Linked DNA regions of Homo sapiens. The protein of the gene in region 1 interacts with the protein of each later gene in a biochemical or structural test. Each region holds a gene or a part of one and is shown on either strand. Other genes may lie near its edges.

What was found. Proteins that work in one complex are often made in the same cells at the same time.
Region 2: the proteins of SELL (region 1) and PODXL form a complex in vitro, tested with the Homo sapiens proteins (one large-scale study listed by IntAct).

What each region holds. Positions count from the first base shown.
Region 1 is NC_000001.11:169,704,973-169,708,620, reverse strand, and holds part of SELL (L-selectin precursor), read left to right. Parts: coding exon 1-204; intron 205-1,171; coding exon 1,172-1,279; intron 1,280-3,648. UniProt on the Homo sapiens protein: Calcium-dependent lectin that mediates cell adhesion by binding to glycoproteins on neighboring cells. Mediates the adherence of lymphocytes to endothelial cells of high endothelial venules in peripheral lymph nodes.
Region 2 is NC_000007.14:131,550,012-131,553,665, forward strand, and holds part of PODXL (podocalyxin isoform 1 precursor), read right to left. Parts: intron 1-3,654. UniProt on the Homo sapiens protein: Involved in the regulation of both adhesion and cell morphology and cancer progression. Functions as an anti-adhesive molecule that maintains an open filtration pathway between neighboring foot processes in the podocyte by charge repulsion.

The sequences.
Region 1 (3,648 bases):
GAATCCGGAAGATAGGAGGAATATGGACGTGGGTGGGAACCAACAAATCTCTTACTGAAGAAGCAGAGAACTGGGGAGATGGTGAGCCCAACAACAAGAAGAACAAGGAGGACTGCGTGGAGATCTATATCAAGAGAAACAAAGATGCAGGCAAATGGAACGATGACGCCTGCCACAAACTAAAGGCAGCCCTCTGTTACACAGGTAGGGAGTGACAAGACGGCTATGCTGCCTCAGACTCAGGAAGGGCCACGGTTAAGAGAATACTCAGATTTACCCCATGGAAAGGTGGGGGGATGAGAACAGCTTCTGGTTCATTCTAAAATACATCTAGCCCTCTATATAATCTTGCATCGTGTCACTCCTAAGAATTTTTGGTGTGTAAGATTTGTCCCTGTGCACAAAAGCTATACCCCTAAATCAAGTTACATCAAAATGATAGATCTACGTAGGAAGTACAGAGGAAGAGCTAGACAATCAGTGCCTTTGATAATAAGGCAGGGGAGGAGAAGCTGACAGCTGGGGCCAGTTGGAAACTTAGGCTCACATCACCTCAGTTTTCACATTGTGAAGTAGAGAGTGTGGTGCTGCGTGCTTCCTTCTTGGTCTAACCTTATATAATTTTATATAAAAATTGCACTATCTTTGGTGTATGAATATTTCTGTAAAATCTTCTACAATTCCAAAACAGCCAGCATTTTCCAAGTGATGTTTTAATAATGAACCATAGTTAATTTGGTCTCTTATAAATTGGACTCTACCGTTTTAGCAAATTTGGACTTTTTAATCTTTGATTTCTATAAAGAAAGGGATTGCCAAGAAATAATTGCATGCAGAAATGATTGAGGTCAGGTCATCATTTAACCTTCTCACTCATTAAAAACAAGTAATTTCAAGAGTTTCAAGGTATGCCACTAAGTTTCCTATAAGTGTTACAGAATATTAGTATTGGTAATTTCATTCCAAAAGCAAATAAATGCCTATGACTATATGCTTAGTGTATTTTATACGTAAAAATTTTAGCATATGATTTTTATGCTATGAATTTACAAATAAACCTTTCCTGATTATTTAAATCATCTCAGACAAAAGGTTATCTATGTCTAAAGAAATGACTTTGAGTACTAAAATGTAATCACATTAAAATATTTTTTTTCTGACCTCCTTAAAGCTTCTTGCCAGCCCTGGTCATGCAGTGGCCATGGAGAATGTGTAGAAATCATCAATAATTACACCTGCAACTGTGATGTGGGGTACTATGGGCCCCAGTGTCAGTTTGGTAAGTCTCTTTCCTTTCTTTGCTTCTTCTTAGGTAAAGTCACAGGAATCATTATAGCTTATCATGAAGCTGGTTGGAACAAAATGATACTAGCCACTCTGAGAAATGGGAAGTTTTGATCAGAAAGCTCTGCTTTCACAATATTGTTACCTTTCCGTAAAGATTTCATAAGTCAGCATGAAGTTTCGACTCACTTCTCAACAAGTCTTTTTGAGTACCACAAGAAGCACAGTGTTGGGATAAAAGCTGTCAGGGTTACCATAAGGAATTAGCATGGTAGATTCCCGCTCTCAAGAAGCTCACGATCTAATGAGCTTGTTAGATTAATTAGAACTCTAAGGTCTGGAAGAAACTATGCCATTTATCATTAGGAGGCTGAGTTACCCAGAAAGTATCTTGCTTTTTCCTTCTAGTAGTTCCTTTCCTTCTTGCAGTTCTCCACACTTAACACATGTGCTCTGTAGCACACTGACTTTGCTGGTGGCCTTCTCTCTCATTTTGCACATGGCCAAAAAACATGTCATCTTTAAGACATTGTTCAAAGACAGTTTCTTCTAGGAAGCTTTCTTAGTTCTGATAGCTCCACATATTTCTTCCTCATTTCTCCCACTTATGTTGAAGTCATCTGTTCACTTGTCCGTCTCCTCTGGTACTGAAAACTTCTTGAGATCAGTAAGTGTCCTATTTATCATTGCATCTTTGGGATCCACAAAATGCCTGTATATATGAGGCACTTGCTTGTGAGCCTGAATTGAATTGGACAATTTAATTTTTTAAAAAAGCAATGTTTGTAAACAATAAAGAATTAAAACCAAAATACATTTAAATGTCAACCAACTGAAATAGATCTATAGATCTAACTCATTTCACTTGATCCCTGGGCCATGACTCCTTCCTAATACTTTACCCTCACCCCATTTTTGAACTCTATTTTTTAACCCTTATGTTATTGGTATGCCTATTTTACTCATTTTTAATTATTGGTATGCCTATTTCACTCATTTTTAACATTTTACTTTTCTTTGTCTTGGTTTCTCTCATATCACTCTTTTCTCATTCTTTCTACCTGTGATCATTTCTCCTGAGATCCTTCATGAGCACTTATCCAGGACCATAAACTACTATAATTTCTCAGCTTTTGTCTTTTGTATATTGCTCTTCTGACTCTAATCTACATGTATCCTTTGGTCAAACTTACTGACTTTTGCGGACTCACAAATCTATGTGATCTTTGGACTGATAAGCCTATCTCCAGCTCTGAACTCAAATATGCTAAGGATGTCCTTTGGGATGTTTAAAAGACTATAAAACCAATTGTTCCCAGTCAGCTTTTCTCTTCGTATTTCTTATCTCAGTATGTGGAATCACCATTTACATGGGCACCCTGGTATGAGACTCTCTTAACTCCCCCAACATTTATGCAGGGTAACATTCTACCAATTTTTACAACTTAGTGTTTTTCTAATTTGTCTTCCACTTGTCAACTCTACTACCATTGCCGTCATTATCTTTCTTCTAGATTCTTGCAATAGTTTATTAGATGAGTTCCACAATTTTAAATTAGCTCCCCTCAAATACATTATTCATACTACAGGGAGACTGATCAATTAAAAGCAATTAAAACACATCACACATACATGACAATCCACCCATTAATTTCTACCTACCATTTTGTCCTACAGGGTGAAATCTAAGCTCTTCAAGCCCCAGAGTAATGCTTGATATATAATAGATACTCTTTAAATCAATGAAAAAAGATAACATTTTCTCTTAGTTCCCATGTTTCTCCCTAATCTCATCTCATATAGTTTCCAAATACAAAAATTCTTCTGATTCCTTGAGTCCATTCTTCCTTGAAGTCTCTAGAGCAAGGTAGCAATAATGGCTTAAATTTGACAGATGAGGAATAAGACATGAAAGTTGTACTGTTTACTAAATGGCATGGCAGGGTCTAAAATGTGAAAACTTTGATTTCCAAGTCTTAAATTTACCTATTGTACCACCAATCAGAACAGGGAAATAGATACAGTTTCTGGAGAGGGTTGTCAAAATCAAAAGAGTTAAAATTCTGGAACTGAGCTAGAATAGAAGACAGAATTGAGGTCAAAATGCTTCCTAGACTTTTATATTCTCTCCTTGCAAAGAAGGCTTATTATGGAGACCCACTCTTTCTCTGAACATCTTGCTCCCAATACTCTAGTAGACTCAGGGGCTCTGATGTGATAGTTATTTCCCGACTAAGCTGGTCATTCCCAGTTACACCTATTTGGCTTTAAGGATTCTCACTACAGATAATGCTGAAGATAATAATATGAAGACTAGCTAATGTTTACTTAGAATTTCTGATGAGTCAGGCTTTGTTCTAAGGT
Region 2 (3,654 bases), on another chromosome or scaffold:
CAATGCAAGAGCTTGGGATGCGGGAGATGTGGGCAAGGGCCACTGATGAATCTGCAGCTGAACGCTGCATTTTGTGCAGCCAATTATCCCGCAAACATTTCTTAACCACCTATTTGGCTAGAGGCTGTGGAAATGACAGGGGGTCCTCAGCCAGTGGGCCAGTGGCAAACACCGACATATTTAGGCACAATGCATGGTGGCCAGTGCTATGGCACAGTATTCCAGGCACCCTTAGGAGTCTAACTCTTAAATAGCAACATGGCCCCAAGCCTCAATTTACCCTTATGGTAGAGGGGTAGGGAAAGAGATGTGGGCACAGTATAGGTTTGTCACCATCCTAAAGTCCTTTTTAAAGAGGTTTTTCGCCAGGCATGATGGCTCATGCCTGTAATCCTAGCACTGGGAGGCTGAGGTGGGCAGATCACTCAAGGTTAGGCGTTCAAGACCAGCCTGGCCAACATGGTGAGACCCTATTTCTACAGAAATTAGCTGGGTGTGGTGGCGCATGCCTGTAGTCCCAGCTACTCAGGAGGCTGAGGCAGGAGGATGTCTTGAATCTGGGAGGCAGAGGTTGCAGCAAGCCACCTGCACTCCACCCTTGGCAACACAGCGAGATTCCATCTCAGAACAAAAAGAAGTAAAATAAAAAAATATATAAAGGGGATTTGGTGAGTTTTTCCAATTCCCAGGAGGGAATCAGCACTGAAAGGGCTGAGTTCTATTCTGGTATTTACAGCTGACACGTATGCGCACATGCACACACATACATGCACGCACACACACACACACGCACACACACGTGTGCACACCCACCTCCTGGAAAGCTATTTATTGAGAGTCACTGGGAACTTGGGCGAATGAACCCACCTCCCTGGCCTGCAATCCCCCATTTGAAACAAGCAGGTTGTAGTAGATGATTTCCAGAAGGCTCCCCAGCTCTAGAATTCTGTGTCCTATGATTTTCTGGCTCATTTAGAAGTGGTGTGGAAAGTACCCTTTGCCAACCGAATTCCACATTGCACAGCCTGCAGGCTGCCGACTCGAAGCAGTCATATGGCAAATGTTACTGCAAATATGAAGAGGCTCCTTTAAGGGATCCTCTGTGTCAATTTTCTTGAAGGCTTTTCTTATAGAGAATGCCCCCGTCATTTGGCCTGTGCAGGGTAGGAGTCACCATCCCAGATCTGCTACATCACTTGATTTCTTAACAGCCCCATAGAGCAGACAGGATACATGATAAAGAGAGGCCCATCCAACTTAGCCCATGTTCCTGGGTCCGGGACAGGAAACCCCACCAGCTGAGCTCCCTGCCCTGCTTCATGGCCAGTGGGTGCAAATAGGAAATGAGCCCAGAGCTGGGTAAAGAGCTCCTGGCTGAGGTCCAGTGAAAGTGTCCAGGCAGGCTCAGGCTGGTGGGTAGGGATGGGCAGGGCAATGCCATTCTCTTTCTCTGATTATGTAGGAATGACTTCCATTTCAGCTAGAGCAAAGCTTGCATTCAGCAGCCCTGAAGAGGGCCTCTGCCTCAAAGGGTGTGAAGAAGCAGCACTTCCTGGAATAGGGGTCATCTACGTCCCCTCCTGAGAAGTCCAGTGAACTGGAGACACGATTCCTCCCACTTCCCTTAAGAGTGAAGGGCTCTGAGCTGGGTGCGGTGGCTCATGCCTGTGATCCCAGCACTTTGGGAGGCTGAGGCGGGCGGATCATGAGGTCAGGAGATCGAGACCTTCCTGGCTAACATGGTGAATCCCCGTCCCTACTAAAAAATACAGAAAATTAGCCGGGCGTGGAGGTGGGCGCCTGTAGTCCTAGCTATTCGGGAGGCTGAGGCAGGAGAATGGCGTGAACCCGGGAGGTGGAGCTTGTAGTGAGCTGAGATCACGCCACTGCAGTCCAGCCTGGGTGACAGAACGAGACTCCATCTCAAAAAAAAAAAAAACAGTGAAGGGCTCTGAGCTAAGTGCTGAGCCAGCTCCACAGCAGCCACCAGCATCACAGGGGTCACCAGCCCCACAGAAGCCTTAACCTTCAGCAGTTGCTCCCACCAGCTCTAGCTGCTGGAGAACAAGCCCACTGGCCAGACATCCCTTCCCAGGATGCAAACTCCCCTTCCAGGGAGCCTAAAGCCAGGGCTGAAGCCGGTTCCCCTCAGTTCTACAGTCCAGAGTATCCCAAGCGACCGCTCAGCGCTGGGTGCTGGGCTGGGCCCTGGAGGTGGTGATAAGTATGTTGTTGGCCCCTCGAGGGCCTCACCGCATGGTGGAGGAGACACACAGATCATGGAACACACTTTGGTTCTCCCTAGGAAACCAGGGAAGGCATCTCAGAGATGATGCCTGAGGGTGGCTAGGAGTGGCTCTTCCCCTCCCTCCCTGCAAGGGGGGGAATTCTAACCACAGGGAGTCTAGTCCCCTTCCCCTCTCAGCTTTCCACAGGGCAGTGGTGTTAAAACCCCAGGCAGCACCCTCCTCTCCTTTCAAACATGGGTTCCTGAGGAAAACCAGATGGGGGACAGCCTCCATGCCTCTTCCCCCACCTTCTCTAGGCCTGGGGGACACCCTGAGGACCCTCCTGGGCAGGCCACGCTCCCCTCCTCAGCCCTTCTCTGGACGACCACACTCCAAAGCTCTGGCCACACTGACACCAGGTGCTTTTGGGTCTGCCCTTGAATGGCTGGGCTCCTAACCCCGCCATGTCCAGCTCGCTCCTGCCTCAGATCCTGTCCCAAGCTGCACCATGCTGGGAACACCCACATTCCCCCACCCCAGCCCTGGGCACCTTGTTTTTTTCCTTGAGTCAGGGTCTCCCTCTGTTGCCCAGGCTGGAGAGCAGTGGCGTGATCTTGGCTCACTGCAACCTCTGTCTCCCACGTTCAAGCAATTCTCCTACCTCAGTCTCCTGAGTAGCTGGGACTACAGGCGTGTGCCACTACCATGCCCAGCTAATTTTTTTGTCTTTTTAGTACAGTCTTACTAGGTTGCCCAGGCTGGTCTTGAACTCCTAGGCTCAAGTGATCCTCCCACCTTGGCCTCTCAAATTTGCTGGGATTCCAGGCGTGAGCAGCCACACCCTGCCACCGTGGAATTTTCTCTCCAGTTCTGAGAGCTAATCTCCCCAAAGCCTCAATGACTCCATCTCAAGAACCACCATCACAGACTCCCCGACCCTAATCTGCATCTCCCCTACACACTACAATTCATAGAGCCTCAGCCACATTAGGAAACACTGACCCTTTTAATTTTAAAATCCCTATGTGAAAACCCCACCTCCTTCAGGAAGCTTTCTCCAGACCTCCAGACCACCCCTTCCAAATCTTATACTCTTTTCCATATGCCTCCCTCTCCCACAGAGTGGCACTGGGGCTTCAGTTTTTATTATCATATATCCACTGATACCCACAAACATTGGCAGGATCCCAATGCCTGGGGTCCCTTAAACCCACCAGGTGCTCAATATATATGCTTACTAATCATCATAGCTATTTTTTGAGTGTTGATCCTGAGTTGGGCGTAAAGCCAAGCCCATGATATATATACTCGCTCATCTTCATAGCAACCCACAAGGTAGGGCTGTTATTACTTTATAGATGAAGAAACTGAGGTTCAGGGAGGTCCACTATTTTGTCCATGGTCATGCACATCTCTCTGACCCAAA